Homo sapiens: one gene and its partners. The protein of the gene in region 5 interacts with the protein of the main gene of each other region in a pairwise test. Each region holds a gene or a part of one and is shown on either strand. Other genes may lie near its edges.

What was found.
Region 1: the proteins of DTX2 (region 5) and NCS1 interact in binary tests that used the Homo sapiens proteins (3 or more experiments, as listed by UniProt).
Region 2: the proteins of DTX2 (region 5) and FAM168A interact in binary tests that used the Homo sapiens proteins (3 or more experiments, as listed by UniProt).
Region 3: the proteins of DTX2 (region 5) and SEC23A interact in binary tests that used the Homo sapiens proteins (3 or more experiments, as listed by UniProt).
Region 4: the proteins of DTX2 (region 5) and HDC interact in binary tests that used the Homo sapiens proteins (3 or more experiments, as listed by UniProt).
Region 6: the proteins of DTX2 (region 5) and MXRA8 interact in binary tests that used the Homo sapiens proteins (3 or more experiments, as listed by UniProt).
Region 7: the proteins of DTX2 (region 5) and RIMBP3 interact in binary tests that used the Homo sapiens proteins (3 or more experiments, as listed by UniProt).

Annotation. Positions count from the first base shown.
Region 1 is NC_000009.12:130,178,577-130,182,894, forward strand, and holds part of NCS1 (neuronal calcium sensor 1), read left to right. Parts: intron 1-4,318. UniProt on the Homo sapiens protein: Neuronal calcium sensor, regulator of G protein-coupled receptor phosphorylation in a calcium dependent manner. Directly regulates GRK1 (RHOK), but not GRK2 to GRK5. Can substitute for calmodulin. Stimulates PI4KB kinase activity.
Region 2 is NC_000011.10:73,405,612-73,409,929, forward strand, and holds part of FAM168A (protein FAM168A), read right to left. Parts: intron 4,051-4,318; coding exon 3,876-4,050; intron 2,033-3,875; coding exon 1,920-2,032; 3' UTR 1,902-1,919; intron 1,134-1,901; 3' UTR 1-1,133.
Region 3 is NC_000014.9:39,092,582-39,096,899, reverse strand, and holds part of SEC23A (protein transport protein Sec23A), read left to right. Parts: intron 1-760; 5' UTR 761-781; coding exon 782-1,002; intron 1,003-3,655; coding exon 3,656-3,713; intron 3,714-4,272; coding exon 4,273-4,318.
Region 4 is NC_000015.10:50,252,227-50,256,544, forward strand, and holds part of HDC (histidine decarboxylase), read right to left. Parts: intron 4,106-4,318; exon of another isoform or gene 3,966-4,105; coding exon of another isoform or gene 3,957-3,965; intron 2,439-3,956; coding exon 2,304-2,438; intron 2,048-2,303; coding exon 1,904-2,047; intron 1,441-1,903; coding exon 1,374-1,440; intron 654-1,373; coding exon of another isoform or gene 549-653; coding exon 386-548; intron 295-385; coding exon 204-294; intron 1-203. UniProt on the Homo sapiens protein: Catalyzes the biosynthesis of histamine from histidine.
Region 5 is NC_000007.14:76,492,128-76,496,445, forward strand, and holds part of DTX2 (probable E3 ubiquitin-protein ligase DTX2), read left to right. Parts: intron 1-25; coding exon 26-126; intron 127-4,318. UniProt on the Homo sapiens protein: Regulator of Notch signaling, a signaling pathway involved in cell-cell communications that regulates a broad spectrum of cell-fate determinations.
Region 6 is NC_000001.11:1,354,938-1,359,689, forward strand, and holds the start of MXRA8 (matrix remodeling-associated protein 8 isoform 2 precursor), read right to left. Parts: upstream 3,619-4,752; 5' UTR 3,568-3,618; coding exon 3,519-3,567; intron 1,768-3,518; coding exon 1,744-1,767; intron 816-1,743; coding exon 513-815; intron 409-512; coding exon 307-408; intron 216-306; coding exon 1-215.
Region 7 is NC_000022.11:18,605,077-18,609,499, forward strand, and holds the end of RIMBP3 (RIMS-binding protein 3A), read right to left. Parts: coding exon 1,439-4,423; 3' UTR 739-1,438; downstream 1-738. UniProt on the Homo sapiens protein: Probable component of the manchette, a microtubule-based structure which plays a key role in sperm head morphogenesis during late stages of sperm development.

The DNA of each region.
Region 1 (4,318 bases), on a different chromosome or scaffold from region 5:
ACCCTCTGAGAGGCCACAGGAAGGAATTTGGACATTATTCGAGATCCGTAGGGAGCCGTGGAAGGGAGGTGATGGAGACACATTAGATTTGGGTTTAGAAAAATTGTTGTTGGCTGCAGTCCCGGAATGGACTGGCGGGGAAGAGGGGTGGTAATGAGACCGAAGGTGATCATGGTGATGAACTGGAGTATCGGTGGGGATGACATGAAAGACAGATTCCAGATATATTTAGGAGGAAGACTCAGTAGGACTTGGTTTCCCTCCCCTCCCCTCCCCTCCCCTCCCCTCCCCTCCCCTCCCCTCCCTTCTTTCCCCTCCCCTGCCCTCCCCTCCCCTTCCCTCCCCTTCCCTCCCCTTCCCTCCTCTTTTTTTTTTTGAAACAGAGTCTTACTCTGTCACCCAGGCTGGAGTACGGTGGCACGATCTTGGCTTACTGCAATCTCCACCTCCCGGGTTCAAGCAAATCTCCTGTCTCAGCCTCCCGAGTAGGGGATTACAGGCATCCGCCACCACTCCCAGCTAATTTTTGTATTTTTAGTAGAGACGGGGTTTCACCATATTGGTCAGGCTGGTCTCGAACTCCTGACCTCAGGTGATTCACTCACCTTGGCCTCCCAAAGTGCTGGGATTACAGGCATGAGCCGCTGTCCCTGGACTCATAGTTTTCATTACCTTGTAAATTTGGGATTATCTACTTTTTATTTTCTGACTTAAAAAAACCTGACCATTCTGAATGTTTGCCCGTATCATGAACTATGCTTTTAGAGCATGATTTTTTTTCATGGTGCATCATATGGACAGAACATATTTTATTTAATCTCCTGTCATTGGACAGTTAGCTTCCTCCTCCCATATTGAAAATACTGAGATGAACATCTTTGTACCACATCTTTGCATGAATGTCTTTGCACTAAATCTTTGCACTTATCTTTTCTTGAAGATAAGAACCCAGAACGGGGTTATGGAGTTAAAAGGCTGGGGATGTTTTGAAAGGCTTTTGATTAAAAATTGTTGAATTGCTCTCCAGAAAGGCTGTTCCAGTTTACATTTTCAGCAAAAGTAGATGAGAGAGTGCCTATTTCTCTGCATTCTTGCCAGCACTGGGTATTACTGTTTTCCTTACTTCTTGCCAATTTTATGGGGAGGAAAAGAGGTGGCTCACTGTGTCAACATTTATTTCTTTGAATACTATGAAATAGAATCCTAGTATCTTTCAGCTGGAGGAGACTCTTGGGGCCAAGTAGTTCAATGCCCTCATTTTACAAGTAGGCAAATTAAGCGCCAGAAAGGTGAAGCATCTTCCCCAAGGTCACACAGCAAATATGTGGCAGGAACTGCTTTGTTCCTGTCAGGGCACCTCCCACTGTGCCAAGGTGAGTTGGCTGTTGGGGTTCAGATAGGGATGTCTTGCCTTCTTTTTATCTATCTATCTATCTATCTATCTATCTATCTATCTATCTATCTATCTATCTATCGAGATGGAATCTCACTTCCGTCACCCAGGCTAGAGTGCAGTGGCGCGATCTCGGCTCACTATAATCGCCACCTCCCGGGTTCAAGCTGTTCTCCTGCCTCAGCCTCCTGAGTAGCTCGTATTAGAATGTGCACCACCACACCTGGCTAATTTTTGTATTTTTAGTGGAGATGGGGTCTTGCCATTTTGGCCAGGTTGGTCTCAAACTCCTAGCCTCAAGTGGTGCACCCACCTTGGCCTCCCAAAGTGCTGGGATTACAGGCGTGAGCCACCACGCCTGGCCTAGGGATGTCTTGACTTCTTCACTGAGGTCTTCTGCTGGGGTTCATCTTGCCCCAGATATCTCTAGCACTCTGGTAAGAAAAAAAGCCAATATAAATTAAAAAGCACATCATCATTATGGTCATAACAAGATGAATCAATTTTCACATTCTGTGTGTGATCTATTTTGCAGGGCAGAGAGTGTCAGAGATTACGTTGCGGCGTTTCTAGGTAACTTGAGATTGGGGTCATATTCTGACCAAGGGCAGAACGGCAGGTGCTGAGGACTTGAAGGTCAGTTCTGCTGTTTCCTGGCTGGGCAATCCTGGCCAGCTCCTTACGTCTCTGAGCTCTGAGGTCCCTTGCGCATGAGACAGGGATGTTTGCACAGGGATCTGCACGTAGTAGGTGCTCAGTAAATGCTCTCCCAGGAAGGAGGCTGCTGGACCGGCTGTATCAGGGACAGCCGTTCTTGGCCACTCCCCTGGGCAATCACAGAGTGAGCTGTCACAGGCTCTTGGCTGAATTGGGAGCGAGTGGCAAACATGGAGGGCCTCTGTGGTGGCCCGGCTGGGTTGGTGGCCGGATTGTTCTGTGTCTGGCTCCTGGCTTGGTGAGTTGGGGAGGGAGAAGGGTTGTGGCAGGCTGGCTTTTAGGCTCCTGTGCGCCCAGGGGCTCAGAGGATGGACAGCAGCCTGCCTGGGATTAAGTCCCAGGACCATCATGGCCTGGACAGTGGCTTTGGAGTCACTAGTTCCCTCTGGGACTCAGTTTCCCTTTCTGTACCATGTTCAAATTCCCAGATAGTGAGACCCAGTGGGGAAGGTACGTCAGGGCCCCAGGGACGGAGTGTGCTTGGGCTGTGGTGTTCAAGACCCAGGCCCTTGGATCTTCTCAGCCTCAGGCATGGTTCTTAGCCTCTCGATACCTTAGTTTTCTTATCTGGGGGTTGGGGATAAGGGACTTCTACTACACAGAGCCGTGTGCGGGGTTAGGAATAACAGACGTTGAACTTGGCGGCTCATCTCGGCCCTCCTTTTGCTCCTGGTGGTGGTGGAGGATCTGCGAGCTGCAGCACGGGACGGTCAGGGGCTGTCACTGCGGTGAGAATCTGGTATTAGGCATGTTCCGTGTGACCCAGGCCTGTCCTTGGTGTTCACGTGTGTTCCTCACCAATTCCACCCAGGAGCCCTGTGGGGGTCCCCTTTTTACAGATGAGGAAATGGAGGCTCAGAGTGGATGAGAGCTGGCTCATGGTCCCACGGCTGGAGAGTGGTGCCATTGGGGTCTGATCCCCGTCCCCTCTCAGCCTGGAGTCTGCACACTGAAGCCCTGGGCCGCGGTGAGGGGCCCCTGCTTGGTGGAGGTGCCAGGGAGCCGCCATGGAGGTGTGCAGGTGAGCGTGAGCGGGCCCGGGTGCCTGGTGTGGGTGTTGCAGGCAGGGCGGGTGCTGCGGGGCACGTGGGCAAGTCCCGATTCACGTGGGCACGCTCCGAGCGTGAGTGACGGGGTCATGGCGTGTGTCAGGAGTGGGTGAGCCGGGCACTCCTGTGCGCACGCGTGTGGTGGTGTGTGAGGGCAGCTCTGTACAGGTTGTAAATGTAGGTGTGCCTGGGGGTGGGGGACGCTGGGGAGGGAGGCACAGACAGGCCGGGAGCCGCGCCAAAGGCTGGGAGCTCAGCTGCCAGGTCTGGAACCAGGTGATAAGCTGCCACTCCCCAAGGCAGTAGGGGAGTATTGTGGTTGGGGGGAGATGACAGCAATGACGACCACCGTTTACCCAGTGGGCACTCGGGACCAGGAGTGCTGAGTGCTGCCCTCTCCCCAAAGCCCTGGGAGTAGGGACCCTTATACCCATTTTACAGATGAGGAAAGGGAGGCCCAGGCAAGTTCAGGGACACGCCCAAGTCCCCCCAGCCAGCCAATCGATGGCCAGTCGGGGTTCAGGCTTAGATCTTTATGTTGCCAGAGCCACGCCCTTCCCACCCGGCGCCTGCCTCCCACCGTCTCTGTGAGCCTCAAAACCTTGGAGTTCCCTGCCAAGGGGAGGGAGCGCCCAGTCCCTGGGAGCATCCAAGCCGCTGCTGGAGCATCAGACACTGGCCAGGCATCCCGGACTCCTGGGCTGGGTGTGAGGTTGGTGGCAGATAGGATCCTTCCCGCTGGTTCCAGAGGTTCTGCCTCCTGCAGGAGATTTGGGGCAGCCTCCGCCTTGCCTTCCTCCAGGAAGGAGGCAGAGTTGAGGCCTTGTGGAAAGGCGGCAGGAGGAGAGGCGCTGATAGGAGTGTGTGGCGCAGCTGTGCCCTGGCCTCAACGGCTTCCTCAGCCTCCACCCACCCCAGTGGAGGCTCAGCAGGTGCTGACCGTGTGTGGGCGCTGGGCTGATCTCAATGGTCATCCTCCCGCCCTGGGAACTTAGGAGCAACGTACCGCCATCTTACGGTGCTGGCACCACCCCTGCTCCTGGGAAGCCTTGTCACGGACAAGGTGGTGAGGACTGAGTGCCCCTGGCCATCCTGCCCTGCCCTGTGCCTGGCTCAGCCCAGGTGCCTTCGGAGGTATCTGTCCGACAGAGAAAGAGAC
Region 2 (4,318 bases), on a different chromosome or scaffold from region 5:
TGTTTATTGCTATTGCTTTTCCTTCACTATCCTCACCTTCAGAGCTGCCAGCACCCACCTGGAATGTGGTTCCTTCACTTGGGCCATGAATGGCACAGGTAACCAAGAGCTTGGCCTGCCTGCAAGCTCTATGGTCAGACAGGTGAGTCCTGGCACTGGGAAGGGCAAAAGAAAAGGGAGAGAAATGCCCTAGGTTCCCACTCCAATCAGGAGGAAGCTCCTCATCAGAGTGGGTCCATGACAGCTCAGAGGCTGAAGTCTGGATGACACAGGGCATCCGGCCTTCCAAGGCCTCGGGATGCTGGGATCCTACCACCCTGCAGCCGCTTGGCAGGTCTAAGGACAAAATCACCTTTTGAGGAAGTGCCAGGTCAGTTAACATCACTGTGCAAATCAGAAGGTCCAGGGCCAGATGCTTTGGCCAGAGACCTTTCAAACCAAAGCCATGAGGCAAGCACCGCTCCTCCCTTCTTCCCTCTCCTTCCCCACAATGCCCTCCCTCCCCCCACCCTCCCCCAAATTCTAAAGACTTTTTTCCCCAGGTTCTCAGCCTGGGGTATTAAGCTGCTAATAACACGCCTACATACTCAGGTGGTTTTGTTCTTGGTCTGTTGCAATGGTTCTCAGGAGACATTTCATTTGTGTCTGGGACATGGGAATGTCCTGAACTAATCTTGCTTAAGAAAAAACAACCAGAACACTCCCCTAGAGATGTAGCCTGCTCAACAGCTCTGAGTTCCTACCCTGGACCACATCTGTTTATGCTCTTCAAATGGAATCCAGCCTTCAGATGAACCACTGCAATAAACCCTACTCTCTGCTTGCCTCTAGACTGGGATCCCCAGGGACAGGACACTTAGGGAAGAGCAGAGAGGACATGGCCTGGTCAGGTAGGAGGAAGGGGATAGAGCTGGAAGGGCAGGGGCTAAGAGGGGGACAGTTGGGGAGAGGCAGGAGATTAGAAAAAGCAGCTTTTACAAAAACCAAAAATAAAAATCAAAACCATTAAAGATGCATAAAGTGACCCTTGCACTTCCGTTGTCTCTTCTTGCAAATAGAGGTGGTGCTGCTAGGGAACTGCTCCAGCACCGGTGTAAGACTTGAGTAGTTGCATACAATGTGTGACTCCAGATCTGCAGAGGGAAAGGGGAAAGAAACAGTGTCAGTGATATTCAGGAGGCTTCTCCCCTCAACTCGGGAGCCCGCTGTGCCTTCCTAGTGAAGCTGCCTGCCTCCCGCCTGTGGAAGTTGTTGTGCTCTGGTGCCAAGAGCCCTGGAGGAGATGGGGGAGGCCAGATGATGTGGGGGGCCAGAGGATTTCAAAGTGACATCCCTGGAGCCCTATGGTTCACTGTCACTGCCTCAGGAGCTGCTGAGGGGACCAAGGAAGCCAGAGGTCTGGGTCAGCCCAAAGCCTCCAAATAGCTCCAACCAAAGCTCTTAACATATGATCTGGGCAAGAGTTCATTTGAAGAATGGGGCCCATAGTTAAAAGAAGTCCGAAGACCATAAGGTAAATGGCACAGAATTTAGTACTAGAGAACTGAAGTTTAAGCCCTAGCTTAATTTTTACTGGCTAAGTGATATTTAACTACATATTTATCTGTAAAATAGAGCTAATGATCCTTATTTCACAGAGCAACTATAAGGATTATGAGATAACATAAGCAAAGGGATAGCTATTATTATTTCTGTTATTATTTAGATTTCAACAAGCAGTCAACAGAAGTGATAGCTATTATTAAGAGTGATATTATGGACCTTGGAGCAGGAAAGCAACTGGTAACTTGACAGCTGTTACCTGCCCTAGCTGACACCTGTGCTCCAGACCCAAACCAGGGACTTTGAGGCAGTTCCTGTATGTATCCCCCTCCCACTTCTCTCACCCTGGCCACACTCACTTGGATGGGCTGCAGGCTTTACCAGTGTGGGGGCACGTAGCTGTACGCAGGGGTTCCTTGGGCCCTATATGTTGGCATGGAGACAGGGTGTGCCCCAATCGCCGTGTGCTGGGGTGTAGTCAGCAGGGTACCTGAGCATCCAGAGAGAGAAGAGTAACCTGACGAGGCTGCACCAGACACAGGAATGAAGAGGATGAAGCTACAGTCTTTCACATGGCTGCTCCCTCTGCCCAAATCCCCCATCTCCCTCGCCTTCCTGATGACCTGTTTTCTGCCCTTCTCCACCTCACCAGGCTTCACCTCCTTAGGGGAATTTTTTCTGATGCTTGAGGACAGAATCAATGACTATTCTAAGTCCTCCTTTTCCTTTTTTCTTTGAGACGGAGTCTCGCTCTGTCGCCCAGGCTGGAGTGCAATGGCGCGATCTCAGCTCACTGCAGCCTCTGCCTCCTGAGTTCAAGCGATTCTCCCGCGTCAGCCTCCTGGGCAGCTGGGATTACAGGTGCCCATCACCACACTCGGCTGATTTTTTATTTTTACTAGAGATGGGGTTTCACCATGTTGGCCAGGCTGGTCTCGAACTCCTGACCTCAAGTGATCCGCCCACCTCGGCCTCCCAAAATGCTGGGATTACAGGCATGAGGCACCACGCCCGGCCTTCCTTTTACTTTTCTTTGTATGCTTCTCTTATTGCACAATCATACTGAGTAGTAATTGTGATGTCTGTGGCTGTGTTTCCCACACTAACCTGGGTGTTCCTTAAGGACAGTGTTCTGATCTGATCTATTGATATTGGGTTCCCAGGACCTGAACAAGGCTGGCACTGAGTAGATATCCAACAGTTTGCCAACTTGATCTGAGGAGTAAGAGGCCTCAACCATACCCTTACGTTAGGGACAGAATAAAATCCAAATGCTCACTCTACCCCTTGTACTTTCTTACCTCAGATGGTATCCTAGCTGGTTCTTTAAAAGTTGGGTCTCTAGGCTAGGCATAATGGCTTATATCTGTTACCCCAGTATTTGGGAGTCTGAGGTGGGTGGATCCCTTGAGCCCAAGAGTTCAAGACCAGCCTGTGCAACATGGTGAAACCCTGCCTCCACAAAAAAACACAAAAATTAGCTGGGTGTAGTGGCGCATGCCTGTGGTCCCAGCTACTTGGGAGGCTGAGGTGGGAAGATCACTTGAGCCCAAGCAGATCAAGACTGCAGTAGGCCAAGATCGTGCCACTGCACTCCAGCCTGGGTGACAAAGCAAGACCCTGTCTCAAAAAAAAAAAAAAAAAACCTAACAGTCCTTGGGGACTTCTGCTTTTGTCATCCCTCATAATTATTATAATTATTGCACAGGTCCTTAAGCTCCTGCCTAATAAAGAACATTGCCCCTGTGTCTTCTTTTTTGGCGCCCCTGCTGTTACTGGAGTGCTAGCATCATCTCTCTCCCCTAAAGTACACTGACAGCCTCCTCACTGACCTACTTGCTTCCAGATCACCCCTTCTAATCCTGTCTCCACTCTGCAGCCAGAGAATGTTTAAACCTAACCACATCCCTGCCCTGCTTGACCCCCATTGTGTGCAACAGAGGTACCACAAGGTATTCAGGACTTTCCACCATCTTATCCTTGCTAGCGATCCAGCCACCTTCCAACTCCAAGCCCCTATTTCCGAAGGGCCTTGGCTCCATTCCTCCATTCTGTGAACATGCCATGTTCATGTTCTTTCTGCACCACCCTTCCCTCTTTCACTTCTCTAGTTAGCCTGTGTTCACCCTTTAAGGCCTAGCTCGATACGTCCTTCTTGGTGAAATCTTCCTCATCCCCATAGACAGATTTAGAGGCTCCTTCCTCTGGGTTCCCAAGCCCCCTGGCACAGGATCTCTTGTGCTGTGCTGCAGCCAATTCTATGACTGTGTTCTCTGCTCCGTTTTGAGTTCCTAGAGGAAAGGGATGGACACTGATGCAGATGCTGCCCTCACCTGCTGACATTGCCATGGTGGTGCCTGCCACCATGCCCATGGCCACACCGTTGGTCCTCGGGGCGGCAACAGGTGCTGGGTAGATAGCAGAGGGAATGCTGTTGGGCTGGACGACCGTGGTATGGTGGATGACATGAGGCTGGGCAGCATACACCGGCTGTGTGTAGTAGGCTCCCTGGGGGAAAGAGGCTGAGGTCACATAGGCATTTGGAGAGGTAGGTGGGATATGGAGAGAGCAGCACTGGCTGAAGGACACAAGGTCCGGACCCCAGCTGGGGCTCTGCTTGTCTTACTATGTGACTGTGGTCAGTGCAGTGCTGGGCTCAGCTTCTGGTCTGAAAAATAAGGCTCTAATCCTGTCCTGCCTTGCTCATAAGGCTGCTATGATGATCTAATGGGATAAGAGCTCTACTCCCTTAACCTTGGTTTTAGCATTTTAAAAT
Region 3 (4,318 bases), on a different chromosome or scaffold from region 5:
CATACCATTAAACATTCTCTTCTGTAAAGTTTAGTGGAAACTTGTTATTTTTCAGATAGAAACCATGTGAGTTTTAGAACTTTATAATTTTGAAATCTGTTTATATGAATTCTTATAATTTTCAAAACTGATATGGAAAACATAGGATCTAGGTTTTCCCCCTATTTTTGCATTTCTTTCCTATATATCCTTAAAGAAATAAGACACTATTTTTTGCCATCATCTTTTAGAGTGAATAAAAAAGTGTTAAATACCTCTTATTGGGCCTTGTGAACATTGGGTAGAGCCATTAATTATTTTGTTATGAGTTGCTTGCTAATTTTTTTCTGAGATAAATATTTTCATTTGGTCCTGATTTTTTTTTTTTTTGAGATGGAGTTTTGCTCTTGTTGCCCAGGCTGGAGTGCAACGGAATGATCTCGGCTCACCACAAACTTTGCCTCCAGGGTTCAAGAGATTCTCCTGCCTCAGCCTCCTGAGTAGCTGGGATTACAGGCATACGCCACCATGCCTGGCTAATTTTGTATTTTTAGTAGAGACGGGGTTTCTTCGTGTTGGTCAGGCTGGTCTCGAACTCCCGACCTCAGGTGATCCGCCTGTCTCGGCCTCCCAAAGTGCTGGGATTACCGGCGTGAGCCACGGGGCCCAGCTGGTCCTGATTTCTAAGGTGTTAATATTGCTGAATGAGGGGAGAACATTCATATTTTGAACGTTCTTAAGAGGATCCTGGATTTTAAAATATTTTAAAATTTTGATACAGAAATAAGAATCAAACTCCACAATGACAACCTATTTGGAATTCATTCAACAAAATGAAGAACGAGATGGAGTCCGATTTAGTTGGAATGTTTGGCCATCAAGTCGACTGGAAGCTACAAGAATGGTTGTTCCTGTGGCAGCCCTGTTTACACCACTGAAAGAGAGACCTGACTTACCACCTATTCAATATGAACCTGTTCTGTGTAGTAGGACCACTTGCCGTGCAGTTTTGAATCCTTTATGGTAAGTAAAATATATAGAAAAACTAATGTGGCAATGTGATTTTAAAATGTCGGGGTTTTTCTGCATATTTTTATAAAAATCCCTTTGTTTTTGTTCATACTAATTTTTTCAAATTAGGACAGTCAAAACAATCCAGAGAGCTGTAAAATTTTAGGATCATTCTAGTTGTACTGAGTTGGTAATATAAAGAGACCAAATGTAAAAGTGGCACTATAAAAACTGTTAGATTCCATCAGTGTCTTCTGAATAGTGGTGCTGGATGTGTATCAACCCATCTTGCATCATTAGATAAGTCATAATTGGCCGGGCGTGGTGGCTCATGCCTGTAATCCCAGCACTTTGGGAGGCCGAGGTGGTGGATCACCTGAAGTCAGGAGTTCGAGACCAGCCTGACGAACATGGTGGAACCCCGTCTCTACTAAAAATACAAAACTTAGCTGGGGTGTGGTGGCATGTGCCTGTAGTCCCAGCTACTCGGGAGGCTGAGACAGGAGAATTGCTTGAACCTGAGAGATGGAGGTTGCAGTGAGCTGAGATCGTGCCTCTGTACTCCAACTCTGGGTGACAGAGCGAGACTCCGCCTCAAAAAAAAAAAAAAAGTTGTGATTGAGTGACATGATGTTCCAAAAATGTTGTGATTTCTGTTGCTGAAGCCAAAATCTCAGGAATCATCTCTTACTTCTCTTTCCATTCCCTCTCCCCCCAGCCAATCCACTAGCAAATCTGGGTGATCTACCTCTAGAACATTATAGATTCTGTCTCTTACAGCCTCTTATTCCATCTCTGGTAGTATACCCTGCTTCAAGATACCACAGTCTTTTTCCTGGGCAATTTCAATATCCTCCTACCTGCTCTCCCTGTTTCTATTCTTGTCTTTCAGCAGTCTGTTCTCTACCCAGAAGCTAGAGTTTTATGAATGAAAATCAGATGATGAACATCTTCCAGTAGTAGCTTCTTATTCTTGGAATGAGAAATACAAACTCCTTATCAAGATCTATAAAGCCTTGTATGATCTAGCCTCTGTATATATTTCTGCCTTCATCTTGTGTTATCCATTTTCCTTATTCTCATCTACATAATACCTTAACCCTGTTACCCTCTTTCTGATTCTTGAACATACCAAACTTACTCCTACCTTGACAATGGTATAGTAGCTGTGCATTCTGCCCGGATTCTTCTGTCTCCATATTTTCGTATGATTGCTTCCTTTTCATTCTGATCATACTTTAGTTGTCTATTTAAGAAGGCTGTTTTTTAAAGCAGCCCTCTTAAACACATTCTCACATTCTGCTTTGTTTTCTTTAATCTCTGTTATTACAATGTAAAAGTATTTTTGGCTGGGTGCAGTAGCTCACGCCTGTAATCCCAGTGCTTTGGGAGGCCAAGGTGGGAGGATTGCCTGGGCAGCAAAGCAAGACTCCATTTCTACAGGAGGGGAAAAAAAAAAAAAAAAAATATATATATATATATATATATATATATATATATATATATATATATGTGTGTGTGTGTGTGTGTGTGTGTATATATATATGTATATGTGTATATATGCATATATATGTGTATATGTGTATATATGCATATATATGTATATGTGTATATATGCATATATATGTGTATATGTGTATATATGCATATATATGTATATGTGTATATATGCATATATATATATGTATGTGTATATATGCATATATATATATGTATATGTATATGCTGGGTGTGGTGGTATGTGTCTGTAGTCCTAGCTACTTGGGAGGCTGAAGATGGGAGAAACACTTGAGCCAGGAGTTCAATGCTGCAGGGAGCTATGATTCTACCATTGCACTGCAGCATGGGCAATAGAACGAGACCCTGTCTCAAAAAAAACACCAAAAGTATTTTCTTGTTTGTGCATCTGCTTGTCTTTTGTCTGTTTTTTCTAGAATGTAAACTCCATGAGAGCAGTTCTCTTTTTCTTGTATCACCAGCGCCTAAAATAGTGGTTGGTACTTATTAGGCATTCAGTAAATATATTTTTGACCTGAATAAATGTTTTCTAGGTCTGAGTGTAGATGTTACTGAAGTCACTTGAAGAAAAAAATAGGATTATTTTAATTTTATTGATATTTGCTGTATATATGTGTGCATATATATATTTTTGAGATGGTTTCACTCTGTCACTTAGATTGGAGGGCAGTGTTGTGATTGTGGCTCACTGTATCTTTGACCACCTGGGCTCAGATGATCCTCTCACCTAAGCCTCCTAAGTAACTGGGAGTGCAGGCATGTGCCACCACGCCTGGATGATTCTTTGTATTTTTTGTGAAGACTGGGTTTCACCATATTGCCCAAGCTGGTCTTGAACTCCTGGACTCAAGCCATCTGCCGCCTCAGGCCTCCCAAAGTGCTGAGATTACAGGCGTGACCTACTGCACCCAGCCAATATTTACTATATGTTAAAAGTTATATTCACCATTTAGGTAAACTTGTATATGTTAAAAGTGTGAATTAGATATTGGCAGTATCTAAAACTACATGGCTTTTAAAAGTTACTTTGACTATCAATTTGAATATGTTCATGTTTTAGGAAGAAATTAATTTTATTGAAATTAGGATTTTTGTAAAATTGAACTGAAATATGAACTGATATGTCTTTTCTTTTTTTTTAAAACAGTCAAGTGGATTATCGAGCAAAACTTTGGGCTTGCAACTTTTGTTACCAAAGGAATCAGGTAAGAAAACATCCATTGCATGCCGGGCGCAGTGGCTCATGCCTGTAATCCCAGCACTTTGGGAGGCCGAGGCGGGTGGATCACGAGGTCAGGAGATTGAGACCATCCTGGCTAACACAGTGAAACCCCGTCTCTACTAAAAATACAAAAAAAAAATTAGCTGGGCGTGGTGGCAGGCGCCTGTAGTCCCAGCTACTCGTGAGGCTGAGGCAGGAGAATGGCATGAACCCGGGAGGTGGAGCTTGCAGTGAGCCGAGATTGCACCACTCTACTCCAGCCTGGGCAACAGAGCAAGACTCCGTCTCAAAAACAAACAAACAAAACAAACAAACAAACAAATGAAAAAAAACCCATAAAACATCCATTGCAGATGTTAATGCCAAAATACTAGTCATGTAGAAAAATGCATATTTAAAAAAAGATACAAATAATTATTTCTCATTTAATGAAAATGCCTTTTTAAAAATAATTAAATGATCAGGAAATACTTTGTTTAAAATTTTATTAATCTTTCTAGCCTATAATTTGTTAAAAATTTTTGTTTGTTTTCTATTTGTAGTTTCCACCTAGTTATGCTGGTATATCTGAACTGAATCAGCCTGCTG
Region 4 (4,318 bases), on a different chromosome or scaffold from region 5:
TAGGGTTTTTAACCATTTTCTGGGTTTCATTCTATATACTTAGGCACAATTAGAAACCAAGGTATGCATTGGCAGTATTATGAGATGAGCTCATAGTGTGCTGCCTTCTGAAGGGAGCCACCGTACAGATTTTGGGGGGTCAGACGCCTACAGTTCCCACTGGCCACCCGAGCCCACCAGGCTGCCCGTCCCTGGCCACTCACCATGAAGTCGGTGGCCACGCCTGAGTTGGCATGCCTGAGGTAGATGGGATTCACACTGAAGGTCTGCTGCAGCTTGTACTTGTCCTTGACCCTGTGGGTTTCCAAATGGGCATTAGTGGCTGAGGTCTCTCCAGAGGAGGCAAGGCGTTCCTGCGTGCTCGGAGCTGGGCTGCTACACTCACCAGAACCCAGTACAGTCAAAATGCACCATCATCCACTTGGAAGGATTAAAGGTGAAGGAGTCGGCATACTCAATCCCCTTCAGAAACCCCCGGAACTCGGGGCACAGGAAGGCAGTGCCTGCATAAGCAGCATCGATGTGGAGCCACAGCCCCTCACGGGCACCTGAGGAGGCAAACATCACCTGGCCGGAGGGGAGGTATGAAGTGGGGAAAGATGTCTCGCACCTGGCCAAGCTGAGTGGTGGGCTGCAAGGATGATGTGCTTTGGCTAAATGAGAAACGGAGGGGTGTGGAGATGGGAGCAGGTGGAGTCAGTTTGAAGAAGTGGGGCTGAAGGAGGCATCATTACCTCCGAATGGGAAAGTCTACAAAGCCTCACCCTTGCCTTTTTCTTCCACTGGGTAAAGGGCCAGCACCCTCTTGGCCTCAGCCTAGAACATCCTGGCACAGAAATCAATTTCCCACCAGCACAGAGAGCAATGTCAGTGCACCGAATACAAAAGTTAGAGGGAAGGTATCTCTCTTTCCTAGTGGTTTCTTGCTTGGGGATTAAACAGTCCCATCTGGGTTTCCTCTCTGCCTTTAATCTCTCCCATGATTTCCCCTACCCTACCCTTTTCCTTTTCTGAAGGTAGAATAGAAAGCATTTCTATTCTAGCCTAATTCACACTGTATTTTGGATATAGCCTGCATTAAGTAAAGTTCAACATACAAGTAAGAGGATGAGAAAACCGAAGGCTCTCCTACTGTCGCCTCCTAGGACAGGAGGCAAGGTAGGCCACCTCTAACTCTTGTCACACCACTGGGAAAGGCAATGTCCAGGGATCCCTGGAAGAGACCCTCATGACCTTTGGTGGTTCTTCCCATGTCTCTGCATTGACCAAAGAGGAACAAGAATAATCCCATAGAGCTGGTTTCAGGTCCTTGCTTTAGGAGACATTTAAAAATGTATTCCTTGTCTTCCTAGCCACAGAGGGAAGATACTTACAGATGGGGCCCAGCTCTGACAGGCAGTCAAATGCACAGACCCCAGTGGTCCCTAGTGTTGCACAGACCTAGGGGAAAATTAAGGCAAGTTAACACAGGAGGGTGGGCTCGTGTGACACATTTGGCCTGAGAAAGATTTCACCACAGACGTGATCTACTCCCATCCATCCCACCAGAACAGTGTATATTTCAGACTGTGTTTTACCATGGCTCGTAAGAAACACATTTTATATAACAATCTAGTACATGTATACGTGTGTATTTGAAAAAAAAGTTTCATAAAACAATACATACTCTGGCTATATGTGTGCACTCTAATATTTTATACTATATTTCTTTTTAATGCTGGTTATGACCCACAAAATTTATTCCATAACACACCTATGGATAGCACCTCATGATGTGTAAAATACTGTATGGGAGGACCTTTCTGCTTTTGTGTGCAGCATGTTACTTACCTGAATTCTGCCAAAATTCCTTCCTCACATCCAAGTTCTATCATTCTAAGCTTAGGCATATATCCTGACTTACAAAGACGGGCACCAAGCCCCGCTGCTTGTCTTCCTCGATGGCCTTCTGAAGAGCTTCCCCTCGGAGTGAGAAGTTGTCATCCACAGGCAGAAATTTCATCTTCACAAGGGAAATCAAACCAGCCTTTTCCACAGAGGAGTGAGCCTAGAAGGGCCACAGAAACCTGTCAGCAAAGAGTCATCCTGGAATGATCACCCCCCAGAAACTGCTGAAGCCTAAGACTCGGGAACCAAATATGATCATTGGAAGCTTGTCTTCCCTACAGTTGCTGGAGACAAGCTCCCATGTCTGAGCTGCTCAGAACCCCAGCGTACTCACGTCTAGAAAAAAATTGCTCAAGGACCAAGATTCCAGAAGCCAAGCACCAACCCGAAGGGCTGTCCTGCGTCGGGCAACTCACCTGGTCAGAGGCATAGGCCACGAGTCGGGCATTTAGGCAGGACTCATCAGCATCGGGCTCAGACGTTTTCATTTCCAGGATTTTGTTCTTCCTTGCTGCCAGCAGGGCAATCAAAGTGGATTCACTGACCGTGCTCTGCAGGGGAAAAGGATTATCATGGCAGCCTTTCTGTATTCTCTTGCCAAATTTCCCCAGGCTTTCTAGTTTTTTCTCTCTCTCTCTCTCTCTCTCTCTCTCTCTCTCTCTCTGTGTGTGTATGTGTTTGTGTATGTGTGTGTCATAGCTATTCACAGAAGGAAATACACAGCTCCTCCTGCCCAGGGTGCCCATGTCCCTCCCCAACTTTCATTCCTATTCTGCCTTCTAAAATAAGTTTGCACCTAATACCAGCCTCTCTATTACAGAGGCCACAGAAACCAAAAAGAGAATGTTCTGTCCCTCCTGGATGTGTTTGCTCCCCATGTAAAACATATTTAAAAGAAGAACTCTCAGCTTATTACACAAATGGATATGGAGTTTGAGTCCCCAGGAAGAGAGGATCCTGGCCTGTGTGAGAGGCTGGTGACTTGGGCCCATTTAGTTGTCAATAGCTCTTGTGACCTTGGGCTAACATTTCCCCTCCAGAAGACTCTTTTCTGTCTATGAAATGGAGAGCATCCCTTTAACTGCTTCCCAGGATGGGAGTATAGATTATCCAAACAAGGGTTGGGTAGGATTTTGCTCTGGCCATGATTGTGGAAATCTTCGGGGCCACCTCAGGAACTTCACAGGAGTCTTTATGGTTCCTTATCATTCATTCACCCAGTCTTTGATGTCTTTGCTTCTTGAAATCTTCAAGTGACCTACAGCTGATAGAATCCTGCTAAAAATGCCTGGCAGACACTGTCATGGAGAGTGGTGTGGACCAGATCCCACAGATATTAAGTGCCTGGGAGTTACTCCATAAAAAGAAAGCTATTTATGTAAAGAAGTATGTAGCATAATAATAATAATAATCAGCTGGGTGCAGTGGCTCGCACCTGTAATCCCAGCACTTTGGGAGGATCCCTTGAGTCCAGGAGTTTGAGACCAGCCTGGACAACATAGTGAGACCCTGTCTCTACAAAAAAAACAAAAAACAAAAAGCCAGGTGTAGTGGTGCACACCTGTAGTCCCAGCTACGTGGGAGGCTGAGGTTGGAGGATTGCTTGGGCCCAGGAGATGGAGGCTGCAGTGAGCCATGATGGCTCCACTGCACTCCAGCCTGGGAGACAGAACCAGGCCCTGTTTTTAAAAATAATAATAATGGTAACAACACCTTCCATCTGTATTGCAATTCATAGTTTACAAAACACTTTCTGGCATTCTACTTGCTCCTCACAACACCTCTTTGAGATAATTATGATTCTTGTCACACTAAGATGAGGAGAGTGATGCTCAGAGAGGTGATGGGACTAACTCAAGTTCACATGGCTGACGATACAGGAGAAAGCATGGTTTGGATTTAGACAGGCATCAGTTTGAATCCTCGTTCTTCCGCTTATCAGCTGTGTAAGCTAGGGCAAATTATTTAATCTCTCTGAACTTCAGTGCTCTTATCTCAAAACATTGGGGAATGGTACTATTCACCTGCAGGGTTCCTGAGATAATCAGATGAAAAGCAAGATCATGTACCGCAGACATTTAGCATGTTCTCCCAAATATGATATCTGAAGTTGTAACTATTTGCTGACAATCCAAAATGTCCACAACATGCTGCAATTTGTCTTTCTTCCGAGGTTCAGATTTTAATCTTGCTGCAAGGCTGCAGTGAGAGAGGGAGTCACTTAGCTAGCAAGAGGACCTAGTGAACTTCCTGGTTCTCATCTCAGAGCAACATGGCAATTTTTTTATTTTTTGAGACAAGGTCTTACACTGTCGCCCAGGCTGGAGGGCAGTGGCACAATCATAGCCCACTGCAGCCTCAATCTTCTGGGCTCAAGCAATCCTCCTACCTCAGCATCCCAAGTAGCTGGGTCTACAGGCACATGCCACCA
Region 5 (4,318 bases):
TAAGCTCTGCTCTTTTCTCCCCCAGTGCCTCCCTCCCCAGCGGTCCCTCAAGCAGCCCAGGGAGCGTCCCTGCCACTGTGCCCATGCAGATGCCAAAGCCCAGCAGAGTCCAGCAGGCGCTCGCAGGTAGGTGCCTGACCTCGGGCTGCAGAGCAGTCTGTGCCCTGCGGACTTGGTGGGGAGGAAATTGTGATGTGGGGCCTTGTCACCCTCTGGATCCTCAGGGAGAGCCAAAGGGGCTCCCTGGGGGAGCAGTGCCTCTTTCTGGTGATGGTGTCACCCCAGAGTGAGCCCAGGTGCCCCTCCTTTTGCTCTCTGGGTACGTGGGCCTGATGACGGTGGGCGCTCGGGTGCAGACCTTTTCACATCCTTTAACATTTTTGCATTGAATTGCATTATATTTAAATAGTCACTTTCCTGTCCTGAAATACTTTAAACATTTCCTTAAAGGGGCCCTCTGGGGAATTAATAGATCTATTTCGGCTGTAGTTACTCTTACATCTTGAATAAGAGGCACCTTTTGGGTCCAACCAGATCTTTTGCTGTACTAACCATACATCTTACATCTTGGAACTGTTTTGGGTTTGGTTTGGTTTTTTGTGAGACAAGAGTCTCGCTCTGTCACCCAGGCTGGAGTGCAGTGGCGCTAACCCAGCTCACTGAAGTCTTGAACTCCTGGGCTCAAGCAATCCTTTCACCTTAAGGATCCTTAAAAATACCTACTGCTGGCCCCCACACCCATTCTGTTTTAGCAGCCTGGCTAGCAGGGTTTTCAGAAGCTCCACAGGTGGCAGGATTTTTTTTCTTTTTTCTTTTTTTGAGATGGAGTCTCTCTCGCCCAGGCTGGAGTGCAGTGGTGGGATCTCGGCTCACTGCAACCTCTGCCTCCCAGGTTCAAGCAATTCTCCTGCCTCAGCCTCCCGAGTAGCTGGGATTACAGGTGCATGCCACCACGCCCGGGCAATTTTTGTATTTTTAGTAGAGATGGGGTTTCGCCATGTTGACCAGTCTGGTCTTGAACTCCTGACCTCAAGTGATCCATCCGCCTCGGCCTCCCAAAGTGCTGGGATTACAGGCATGAGCCACCGTGCCTGGCCATTTTTTTTTTCTTGTTATAAGAGACAGGATCTTGCTCTGTTCCCCAGGCTGGTGTGCAGTGGTGTAGTCATAGCTCACTGCAGCCTCCAACCCCTGGGCTGAAGCGATCCTTCTGCCTCAGCCTCCTGAGTAGCTGGGATTACAGACACATGCCACCATGCCAGGGAAGTTTTTTATTTTTTGTAGAGACAGGGTCTCACTATGTTGCCCAGGCTGGTCTTGAACTCCCAGGCTCAAGCCGTCTTCATGCCTTGGCCTCCCAAAGTGCTGGGATTCCAGTCATGAGCTGCCACGCCCAGCTGAGGTTATTTTCTAACTTCTGGAAAGTTCGAGGTATGTAAGGAGGTGGATGGCGCCATCGTTGTTCACAGGGTGATGTGGCGGAATTCAATAATGAGTTGGTGTTTTAGGGGAGTTGCTGTCATAGTGGCTGAGAGGGGACAGGCCTGGAGGTAGGGCGGCTGGTGCAGAGCCTGACCTCAGACCTGGGGGCACCAGCCAAGGCCTGACCAGCTTCGAGGCAGTGGAGTGGAGGGGGAGGTTTGGCTTGAAACATTCAGAGGCATGAGCCGTCAGGCGGGGGGTTGTGAGGGGGGATTGGGGGTAGACTGAGGCCTGCTGGAGTGCAGCCAGTCACAACTGAGGAGCAGCCTGGGGCTTGGCGTGTGTGAATTCATTTCGTCCTTAAATCACTGAGGTGGAGGCTTTTGTTCCCATTTTCATTAGAGGAAACTGAGGCTCGGAGAATTTAAAAATTCTCTGCCAGCCCTTGGCAGAGCTGAGACACAGCCCCGGGCCTTCTTGCCTATGACGGTTCAGTGCTGCTGAGTCTAGGGGGAGGTTGGGAGGGGGTGATGGCTGTGGAGTGGCCGTTGGAGCTGTTCCGGGGCAGTGGGATTTGGCTGTGGGCCTCAGAAGAGCAGTCTTGGGTGGAATGGGGTGCCCCTGACCCCTCGTGGGAGCGTGTGTGCCACAGAGACCGTGGGCAGGACTGAAGAGAAAATGAAGGAGCGGCCAGAGAGGTGGGGGCAGGAGGGAGAGGAGCTGGAGTGGGGCAGGGGAGACAGAATGAGCAAGACACACTGGCCAGAAAGTCCCTGCCCACTGAAGTCACCGTGCGGCGCCGTAGGGAAATCACAGTGTACCGTGTGTGCATGTGCGGCCGTGGTGGCATTGGAGACAGGTTGTGGGTAAACAGACGGGGCCCCCACACGGTTCCTCATGGCCCAGCTCCTTCCAGTTCTGGGGCTCTCGCAAGCCTTCGTGGCCAGGCCTGACAGTGAGCGACCTCTGAGGCCATGACACAGATCTAAGTGCTCTGGGTGTGGAGTTAGCACCTGCCCCCTTCCTCTGCTCTTGAGGCTGAAGGTCCTGTCCAGGCTGTGTCCCAAATTGTCCATCCTGTTGTCTGTCCCCGTTGCTCTCAGAGCAATCCTGGAGCTAAAGCAGGTATTTTAACATCCATTTTACTTGTGGGGAAATAGATTCGGGAAGCTGGTTCAGGCCTAAGGAAATAGGAGAGCCTGGAGGCTGTGTAGACTCCTGCCTCCCCCAATTCAAGGCCCAGTGTTGGTACCTACTGGGGGAGCATTGTCTAGGGGAGCAGGGAATGAGAGGAGCCTGGCCAGCACCCCGGAGCCAGAGCTGGAGAGCAGTGTCCTGTCACCCTGGTGTGCTTGTGGGTTGAGGAATTATACCATGCCCGGCTGCGGAGACGAGCGTTTGCGCACAGGCTTTTTGCAGAGAGGTTTATAACCAGGAGGTCATGCTTTGGAAGGACTGAGTGCTGGAGGCACTGCTTCCAGGTGACAGTGCCTCCAGGTGACAGCTCCCCTGGCTGTGGCATAGCCCAGTCCCTCTATCGGGTGGGGGCAGGGACTGTGAGGCTGGAGCCAGGGTCTCCACCCCTCACCTGGTCACAGCAGCGGTCCATCCACAGCTCACACTGCTGCCTGGGGCAGGGATGGGTGTCAGCAGCCTGCCCAGGACTGCTCAGCTGGTGAGGGCTGGCACTGGGCTCGAACCCAGGCTGGGGAGGTCAGAGCGCACAGAGGAGAGGCTTGGATCTCAGCCCTGGCCCTGGGTGTCAGAAGGAGGGGTGTCTGCAAATTGGAAGTGAGAATCAGTGAGTGGGGGCTTCACTCTTCAGGGCTCTGACAGCGGGAATCCTCCCAGATGGGTGGAGAAAAAGGCTGTGGCCCTCCGAGTTATTCAGGTGTTTTGGGGGCTGTCAGGAGTTTGGGGGGCTGTCCCTAGCCCTCCTCCTCTCCAGGCTTCTGGGTTGAAACTTGTGTGTTTGTGACTTGAATTCAGGGGAGTGGGTCCTGCATTGAAAAGGACACGTGTGTCACTCATGCGGCCTCCTGGGGGCTGGTGGTGGCCCAAGGATGTCTTCATTCCTCAGCAAACACAGAGGGCTGCAGGCTTCCCAGGGATCAGGCACTGCCCCAGCGGGGTGCTGGAGATGCAGCTACGGGTGGGACCTCGTGGAACTCGTGCTGAGGGAAGACAGTCCATAGAAACAGAGGGGAGTGCAAAGCAGGAGTCCAGCAGGGTGGGGCGGGAGGCTTGGAGGGACAGGCCCCGTCAGGCAGTGTTCAGGGAAGGCCTGCCCGCTGAGGCAGTGTTGCCGGAGAACCCTGGGTAGGGAGACGTGTCCTGGCCTTTGGTCCTCCCAGACGACGTGGGCAGCGCAGAGGCACCAGATTCTCTTGAGGAAAACTGCACCTGTCCTTGTCCTCTCTCATCTCTCTGCCACCCGCGCCCGCTTGTCCTTCTCTCCACCCGACATTCAGTTCCCACAGGAACCGCATTTGAGCCCAGGAACAAGCTTGGGATGTTGGGGGCATTGAGCTCCCGGGCTCAAACCTCTGTCCTCTGATGCACGCTTTGGTGTCTCCTGCTGAGGGCCACTGCAACTCACCCTGCCCACCTCGGCTCTGCTGCCCAGGCTGGTGGCTGGTCTCCGCTTCTGTCCCCACAGCCAGGCACATGTGCCGGGTTGAGAAGCTTTGTTCTTCTAGTGGGGGCGCAGTGGCTGGCCTGGCCGCCCTTCACCCCTGAGTCACGCCATCTGTTCCTGGATGGGGAGTGGGGTCCAGGAGGACTGGGATTTCTACCAACTCCCCCGGCAGCCGGCTGTGCCCAGCTCCTGAGCCAGGTTCTGCAGACCCTGGAAGCCACCTTAAGAGATGGCTAAGAAGCTCTAGGCTTCCCCTTT
Region 6 (4,752 bases), on a different chromosome or scaffold from region 5:
GCGCTCGCCCGACGCGTAGAGGTCCAGCAGGCGGTCCGCGCGGTCGTGCGGGACCCCGGGCGGCTGCCGGTCCCAGTGCACCACCTGTTGAGCCTCCTCCACGTGCCGGTCGGTCCACACGTGCCCGCGGTTCACGCAGGTCAGAAGCGCGGGTGCGCCGCGCGCCACCGCCAGCACCTCCTTCTCGCCGTCCCAGTAGGCGGGGGTGGCCGGGGCTGCGGAGGGGGCGCGGTCAGCGGCGCGCGGGCCGGGGCGGCGGTCGAGGGTCGAGGGGCGGGAGCTGGGGGGCGGGGGGGAAGCACTCACGGCCGTCGGTGACCTCCAGGCGGACGGCCAGGCTCTCGTAGAGGTGGCAGTAGTGATGGTGCAGGTTGCAGGTGTACAGCCCCGCGTCCGTCTCCTCCACCGCTGCGCACCCAGGAGGAAGCCGCGCGTGAGCCTTGCGGTGCCCCCGACCCCGCGGCCCCGGACCCCTGCCCCGACCCCGCGGCCCCGGTCCCCGGTCCCCGCACCGCGGATGAGCAGCGAGAAGTTGCCGTCGTCGAAGGCCGAGGCCGAGAGCTCCAGGCGGCCGCGGTCCCGCGCCTCGTACACGCGCTGCTCGCCCGCCGAGTACAAGTCCAGCAGGCGCCGCGCGGGGCCACCCCCGGGGCCGCGCAGGTCCCAGTGGAGCACGCGCTGGCGGTCGTGCAGCCGGTCCTGGGTCCACACCATGCGCGGGCTCTGGCAGCGCAGCACCGCCCGGGCGCCCGCCTCCCAGCTCACCGCGGACTCGGACACCACGGAGCTGCCAGCAGCGGCGGGTACCGAGGACCCTGGTGGGGGAGGGGAGTCGGTGGGGGAAGGGGTGGGCCCCCTAGGGCCCTGGTTGGGGGAGTCAGTGGGGGAGGGGCAGGGCCCTGGTGGGGGAGGGATGTCTGTAAGGGACGGGCAGGACCAGAGGGCCCTGGTGGTGGAGGGGAAGTCCGTGGGGTGGGGCAGACCCCCGAGGGCCTGGATAGGGGAGGGGGAGTCACTGGGGGAGGGGCGGACCCTGATGGTCCTGATGGGGGAGGGTGAATCAGTGGGGGAGGGGCGGGCTCTGAGGACCCTGGTGGAGGAGGAGGAGTAACTGGGGGAGGGGTGTGCCCCAAGGACTCTGGCGGGGTTGGGGGCATCTTTGGGGGGGTGTGGGCCCCTGAGGCCCCTCGTGGTGGGGGAGATTCCATGGGGGAGGGGCATGCCCCCTAGGGCCCATGTGGGGGAAGGGGAATCATTGGGGGAGTGGTGGACCCCCGAGGGCCCTGGCAGGGGAGGGGGAGTCCATGGGGGAGGGCAAGTCAGTCGGGGAGACATGGGGCCCAAGGACCCTAGTGGGGGATGGGGAGTCCATGGGGGAGTGGTGGGCCCCGAGGGCCCTGGTGGGGAAGGGGACTCAGTAGGGGAGGGGCAGACCCCGAAGGCCCTGGTTGGGGAAGGGGAGTCAGTGGGGGCATCTGTGGGGGAGGGGTGGGCCCCCGAGGGCCCTGGTGGGTGTGCGGGAGTCTGTGGGGGAGGGCCAGGCCCCCAAGGGCCCTGGTAGGGGAAGAGGAGTCATTGGGGGAGGGGGAGTTATTGGCAAGGGGAGGTGCCCAAGGGTCCTGATGAGCAAGGGGGAATCAGTGGGGGAGGGGCAGGGCCTGAGGACCCCCGGGGGCTGGGCCTGGCAAGATAGGAGGGGCTGAGGGGGAGTGGGGGTGGGCAGCTGGGGCTGGGGTCACTAACCTGAGTGCAGGAGAACAGCAGAGCCTGGAAGGAGAGGAGTGAGCTGGAGAGGCCACCCACAGCCCCACCCAGCCCCGAGACCCCCCACTTGGCCCCCAGAGTCCCTCCTGTAGTCCCAAAGTGGATGCTGTGACACCCACTTCAGTGCAGGGAGGACGCCTCTCACACAGACCTACATAGCCCTCCCTGCCACCGTGCTGGGCTTTGGATGGCACCTGCCCTTGAGTGGGGAAGCCAGGGCATGGGCGTGGGCCAGGGCCAGGCTCCAAGCCAGCCGGTTCTGGGGTGTGTGCTTGTCACCGGGGCCACTCCACCTGGCTGCACCCAAGTCACCCAGAGCACCAAGGAGGCTGGATCTGTGGGTTCCCCCACGCTCCCTCCAGGGCTGTGCCCCAGCCCCCGAGGGTCCTTGGACCCTCAGACGCTGGGGACCCCACACCACACCTAAGGCTCAGCGCAGCCCCTGAGGTGCTTCCGCAGGGCAGAGGCCTGAAGGCTGAATGTGGGTCGTGACCCCGGCTGCCGCCCCACAGGCCCGCGTTGCTGCTTGAGGGACTCTCATTGTCGTAGGCCGCCTCGGCATCCACTCTGAATCTAGGCTGGACTTTCTCTGACCGGAAGCGGGGCTGCCACCCGGGACAGTTTCCAATTCACATCCCCCGTCCTCGAGCTGATCCACCCAGACGCCCGCCCTACGCACTGTCCCCTGGTGACCACCCCCTGTGTCCCCACAGACCCCACGCCCCACATGGACTGTGCAGCTGCACCACGGAGTCCCCCCACAGTCAGCGTGGCCCCACGGGGCTCGTGCCGCTTGCCTTAAACCCACCAGTTAAAACTCCCCCACCAGGCATGGTGGCTCACGCCTGTAATCCCAGCACTTTGGGAGGCCAAGGCAGGTGGATCACCTGAGGTCAGGAATTCAAGACCAGCCTGGCCAATATGAAAAACCCCATCTGTACTAAAAATACAAAAAATTAGCCGGACGGGGTGGTAGTGGGCGCCTATAGTCCCAGCTACTTGGGAGGCCGAGGCAAGAAAATGACTTGAACCCGGGAGGTGGAGGTTGCAGTGAGCCGAGATCACGCCACTGCACTGCAGCCTCCTTGGCGAGAGAGAAACTGCCTCCAAAAAAATTCCCTGAGGGAAACCTGTATGCAGAACGCCCTGATCCCAATAAAGGGTTGGCCTGGGGGTCCCTGTCTCTCTCCACTTTCCCTGGCCTCCCAGCAGTCTGTGCACCCCAGGGCCCGTGGGTGATAAAAGCTGTTTCTATCCTGTGTCTCTAGATCACTGGGGGCTGCTCTCCCTCACATAGATCCTATGTGAAAACTGCCCCAGAGATGTGGCCGAGAGCCTGGGAGCTTCCCAGAGGAATGTGCCCGGTCAGCAGCCAGCCCAGGCCTGGGAGCGGGGGCTGGAACAGACCCCACAGTTCTCAGGTCCCCTTCAATCACTGACCCACTCCCTAAACAGAGCCCCAGCAAGAGGGGCTGCAGGAGGGGCCCCGAGGGAGACGCCGCCGTGCCTGGGCCCCCAGCCCTTCTTGGCCCTCTGGGCTTCAACTCCCTAGGAGGGGAGGCTGGCCAAAGTCTAACTGAAGACGTCACAGCCTCTGGCAAGCGGCTCTCCCGAGCGCCCCCAGACCCGTCCTCTTCCCTGGTGGGACCTTCCCACTCCTCCTGGCCCAAGCTCAGATGGGCGGTTTTGTCCGAAACGGACTCGCACAGCCCCACGTGCCACCCCCCACCCGCCTCCCAGGGCCCCACACTCACTCTGCAGAAGCACAAGTTTCCAAAGCAGGATTCGGGATGGCAGCGCCATGGCCCCCGCCCAGCCCCAGGCTTTGTCCCACTCGGCTCTAAGTCTCTCTCCAGAAAAACAGCCCTACCCCCTCCCCCTCCTTAGCACCCGCGGTGACATCACGGAGGCCTGGGCCTGTCTACGGTCTGGGGACCGCCCCCTCTGGCTCCTGCCGGGCCCCTTGGCCTCCCCCATCGTTGCTGGCCTGCTGGGGAGGGGCAGTGTGGGAGCAGAGGCCCAGCCCCTCACCGGTCAGGCCTGGGGAGGGGTGGTGACCGCACCCTTGGAGGGACAAGAAGGTCCGAGGACATGGGCCCCTGATACCACGTGATCGTGTCTCACGTCTAGGAGCCTCCCGGGCCTGTGGTGAAGGGTTGGGACTGTTGGGTGAGTGGCCCCTCCGCCCCACCTCTGGCCTCCCCCCACGTGAGCCACCTCAGGGCAGGGTCCTCCCCTCAGTCTGCTCCAGGCCCCAGAAAGGCCTCCCAGCGCTGAGACCGCCCCCACCCACGGTGCACGCTGGTGCTCTCCTTCAGACCAGATGGCCCTTCCAGCTCCAACCCTTGGCCCTGCATGACCTTGGTACCCGTCTCCTCTGGGGGCCACGGTGGGCTCCCTTGGGCCAGGATGATGGACGCTGCCAGTCACTAGTCCCCTTTACAACCTGGAGAGTCAGCCAGGGACAGGGGACCCTGAGCACTGGGAGGCCTGGGGGTGCTGGGGTGAGCAGACCTCTCCCTGCTGGCCCCGTCCCCTGGGGCTGCCCGCCTTTAGGGTGCAGCCTGGTGTCCCTGAAACCAGGTGCTGGATTACAAGCCTCCTGGAGAAAGGGGAGAGTGGGACCCCTGCCATGGAAGGCACAAATTTGAAACTGTGGGAAAACTTACAAAGTCACATAAACAAATGCGAAATAACAGCCTGCACTGTGTAGCAAACCCAACTCCTTCTAATCAAGCAAACCTCAAGAAAAAACAATCTGAACAACCACAACCACTAGAAACCCTCAGTGCATAGTTCCGCCCGCCCACTTGGAGTGAGCTCTCCTTACAGGCCCCGAGGGCCCCAGCTGGGTGGGGGGCTCACCCCTGAACCCTGCTCTGGTGCCCAAGTCCTCAGACAGTGGGAAGCCCAGTGCAGATCAGAGTGGTGGTCTCAGGGCGAGGGGAGGGGAACCTGCGGCTGCTCCAGTGAGAGGAACGGGCAGGA
Region 7 (4,423 bases), on a different chromosome or scaffold from region 5:
CAAGATCGTCATGTGGGAGACACTGACTACCCACTCCTAGCAAAGGGCTCAGCAGCACACGGCCTCCCTGCGGGGATGCCCTCGGGGAAGATGTGGCCCAGAGGAGTTTTTTGGGCCTTGCTCCTCAGTCCTGGCTCTTAGTAGGACCCTCTGCAGCCAAACTAGCATATCCTGAGCCAGGCTGACCTTAAAAAGTAAGCATTCAGGGCCTAGGGACCTTGGGCAAAGCAGAGAAGCTGGTGTCAGATGAGGTGCAGCAGGTACAGTAGGATAAGGTGTTCTCAGGTCGCCAGTGCAGCCCCAAGATGAGCCTGCAGTATTTTCCTTACATGATCTGGTCCTACTGTGGGCAGCGCTGCTGCCCAGAGCCTGAGAGGATTATGAAAACATGGCAACGGAAGTGAGGCCAGGGGACACAGCATGGGGGCATGAGGAGCAGGGGACAGCGGGTGGGGCTAGAGGAGAGGGAGGTTTAGGGAGGCCTCTGCTGCTGTGACTGTGAGCCCCAGCCAATGATGACGTGGCCACCGCACAATCTGAGTTCTGGGAACCATGTGATGGAATGTGTTCTGGGAATAGACTGCAGCCAGGAAAAAAAAAGCAGAAGGGTGCACCCTCCCTTCCTCAGCCAGGAAAACATTTCTGTAGCCCTTGCGGACCCAATGCGCAGAAGTGAGAGGGAGGAAAGCCAGGCTCATGTTTCCTTGGTTGTGCTTCAACTTCTAAAATATGTTTTTTCTATGAACATTTTAATGAGGGGTTGGACATAAGACAGAAAAATAACATTCTGAGAGCTCGTTTGGAGGTTCTAGCAGGGGAGCGCAGCTACTCTTATACTCTTGACTGAAGACCGATCGTCCTCTATCGGGGATGGTCATCCTCTTCCATTGAGCACACAGCTTCTGGAGGGACGCACATGGAGTGGTGAGGGAGGAAGGGGATACCCGCCTAGTCAGCCAGATCAGCCGAATCAACCCTGATGATCAATGGGGTGACACATGTCGCAGCCAGATCACCCTCACATCCCAAAAATAACACTCAGATTGCTTTTTCTTTTTTAAGATGTAGACTTTTCTTGAGACTTTCGTACAAGGCAATGGACAGATAACCTTAACCTCCCAGAGAAAACACACATTGGCCACAGAAAAAGGCGCTTCTCCGTATACCTGCCATAGTTATCAGCAACTTTGAAATGGCTTCTCAGACTCTCAGGGGTTGGCTTGTTGTGTTTGCTTTTGCAAATAACTCAGGCTTAAGTCCTGCTACTTTCAGAGCCTAGGGGACGCTTAAGGACTACCATCAGTTTAACACAGTGGCACTTGGAGCACATGCTACTTATGGTGGTGAGGAGGGGTGCTGGTGTGAGGGTCTGAACGCTTGCTTCTCCTCTGGCAGGGTGTGAGCAGCCAGAGGCCACTACCTGGGCAAGGATGCTTGCTCAGTGTCCATGGAGGGACATGTGATCCAGCAGGTGGGCAGGAACCAGGCCCCTGTGGCCGCCCAACTCTCCATAATAGAATCCTTGGTCATCCATGGGCCCGTAAACCATGACCACGTCTCCTGCCCTCAGCGCCAGCCTGCCCTTCCCCTGGCCCCCCATTTGCCCATCCCCAGGATCATAGTCCAGAGCTGCTATCATGATCTTTGGAGTCCACAGTGGGAGTCTCTTGGAGTTCCCCTGGAGCACCAGGGAGGAACCCTGGGGGATGGTGAGCCCCTGAAAGTCCTCGAGGTGGGCCACAGAAGGCAGGTTCCCTTGGGCCGGAGAACGCCACCTCCTATCAGTCTGCTCTGTCCCCACCTCCATCTCAGCCACTAGGCGCCCGGGGATATTGCCCACTTGCCTGTTGCACTCGCTGAGGTAGAAATCATGGGTGTCCTGAGAGCCCCACACTCTTAGCAACTGCCTTTTCTGGAAGACCAGCTCCTCCTCTGCAGCCTTGAGGTTGGCAGACATCACCAGGGGGTTGTAATCAGAGAGGGCCACAAAGACCCTGGCTGGAGTGTTGGCCCCCGTCCCCAGCTGTTGGGGGCCACCCCTGGGCATCTTGATGACTTTGGCGGATGGAGCTGGACACAGTGCCGAGCTGGGCTCATGGAGCTGGCACCCTCTCTTCACCCCCAGAGCTTGTCCTTGCCTGCTGTGGGGCTCAGGCTCCCTCCTCTCCTCTCGCCTCTCTGTGCCCCACAGATCCAAGCACAGTGCCTCCTGCTCCTCCTTCAAAACGTTATGGAAGTCAGATGCATACTGTTGGCTGGCGCCCAGCTGGGGAGGTGTGAACCCTTGGGCATCTTGCTTTTGCCGAAGTACCCTCTCAAGGGCAGCCTTTTCCTGACACGGTTCTTTCCTGGGCCCACACTCGGTGCGTAGATGGATGAATCCTGGAGCAGGGCTTTTGCTGGTGCCCATGTGCTGGGAGCAATTTTCCTTCTCCCCAGGCTGGTCACTGACTGAAGGTGGCCTGTGGTTCTGGGGACTCTTCTGAAAGAGCAGGTCCTTTCTACAGCCCTCCCAGGCCTCTGCAAGCTCCTGGGCTTGGCTGCCAGCCCCTGAACTCGGACATTCTCCTTCTGAGCCCAGGTTGGACACTGGGGATTGCCTCCTTGGGGGTTCTTCAAAGAATGCTTCTAGGAACTTGGCCTGGGGCTCCCCGCAGCTTCCAGGGTTGTGGGGGCTGGCCTTGGCACTCGGAGGAGCCAGTGACAGCTTCTGGGGGCAGACGGGGAAGGTGACTCTGTAGGTGGATGGGTCGCCACAAGTGTAGCTAAAGGGTGGAGTCTCTGGCCATCGGTGACACATGAAGAAGTCCTCGGGGATCTGAGCAGGCACTGAATCCAGGGACTCACCACAGAGTGACATGGTTCTCACTGAGACCTTCTGCCACGTGAGGGGCACCTGTAGCTGGGAGAATTCCAATAGGGTGCTCCCAGCAGTGGCATCGGCGACCTCACAAACCTTAAGCCCATCTGCATACACAGCATAACCGGTGACCTGGACTCCATTGGAGGACCCAGCTGAGTCAATGGTCACAGGGAGCCAGCTGACCACCAGGACACCTGGCGAGGCATGGCGCTCCACCAGCACATCCAGCGGTGGGTAGGGAGGTCCTGCCAAGAGTGTGTCGAAGGTGACGGTGGAGGACATAGTTCCCCAATACACCTGCAGCAAGTCCCGTGGCAGCCGCACCTCCACCCGCGCCCGGTAGTGCGTGCCGGGGCACAGGCCCTGGAAGGTGTAGCAGCTCACGCCCGCTGGGGTCAGGGCATGCTCTCGGTCATCAAGATATACCACATGGGGGTGGCGGTGGCTGCTGTAGACCCAGGTGATGTTGGCTGATGTGGCTGTGACATTCTGCAGGTGTAGCTGCATGGGAGCCATACGGAGCACCCCTTTGGTCCCCAGAAGGGGTCTGGAGAGGCCCTGCTTCCCCATGCTCTGCAGCAAGCCCAGCTGGCAGGCTTCCGTCTTGGTATCCAGGATCTCTGTTGCTACTTCTGTCTTGGAGCCCACCCTGACCATCTGGCACAGCCCTCTGTCCACCACTCCCTGGGCTTTCCCAGATAATAAGCTGTCTTCCTCCAGAGCTTCATCCTGCCCCGCTGGGAGTTGACTGGGGCCAAGATCAGGGGATTTGGCAGGCAGGCAGCCTGGGATGTAGCTGTCCGGAATCTGCTCCACGAAGTTGGAGGGCACCAGCCCCCGCCGGCCATCCTCAAGCTCCCCCTCATAGAAGCCATCCTCATCCATGTCCCCGAAGATATATATGTAGTCCCCAGCTGTGAGGGGCAGCTCACCCTCAGGGTGATCATTGGGCCCCTCAAATGGGTTGTAGTTATACTGAGCCATGAAGATCTTGAGCTTGGGGGCAGCAGGAGCCGCCGAGCCCCCCATTTCCAGGGCCAGGGACACGCTGTCAGGCTCCAGGTCATCCACCTCACTGGCTGTGTCCCTGTCCAGAGTAGGGGAGGACGGCACGGTGGCCCACATCGACCCCTCAGAGGAGGAGTTTGACTGGGAGCTGGTTTTCTTGGACAGAGGTTGGCTGGCAGGGACTGTCTCTGAAACTTGGGGGACACTGGCTGACTCCCCAAGGGCAACTGGGCTCTCCTCGAGGGAGGCTTCCCTTTTCTCCTGTATGTCTCTGTTGGGCTGTGACACTGCGTAGTCTTCAGGCCGTGCGTGGAACTTGGGCCTTCTGCTACCTTTAACTTGGGACTCCGGCATTTGACTGGTCTCCCAGGGCTGTTCAGGAGGGTGACCAGGCCGACACTGGAGCGCCTGTATCTCCTTCCAGGAAGGATGGAGGTCACACAGGGCCTTCTGCGGGTCGCGTTGCAGCTGCTGCTGCCTGTCCTGCCCGCGCGCCGCCTGCTGCAGCAGCTGTTCGGCGATCAAGCCGGAGGCATCGCGCTCTTGACACGC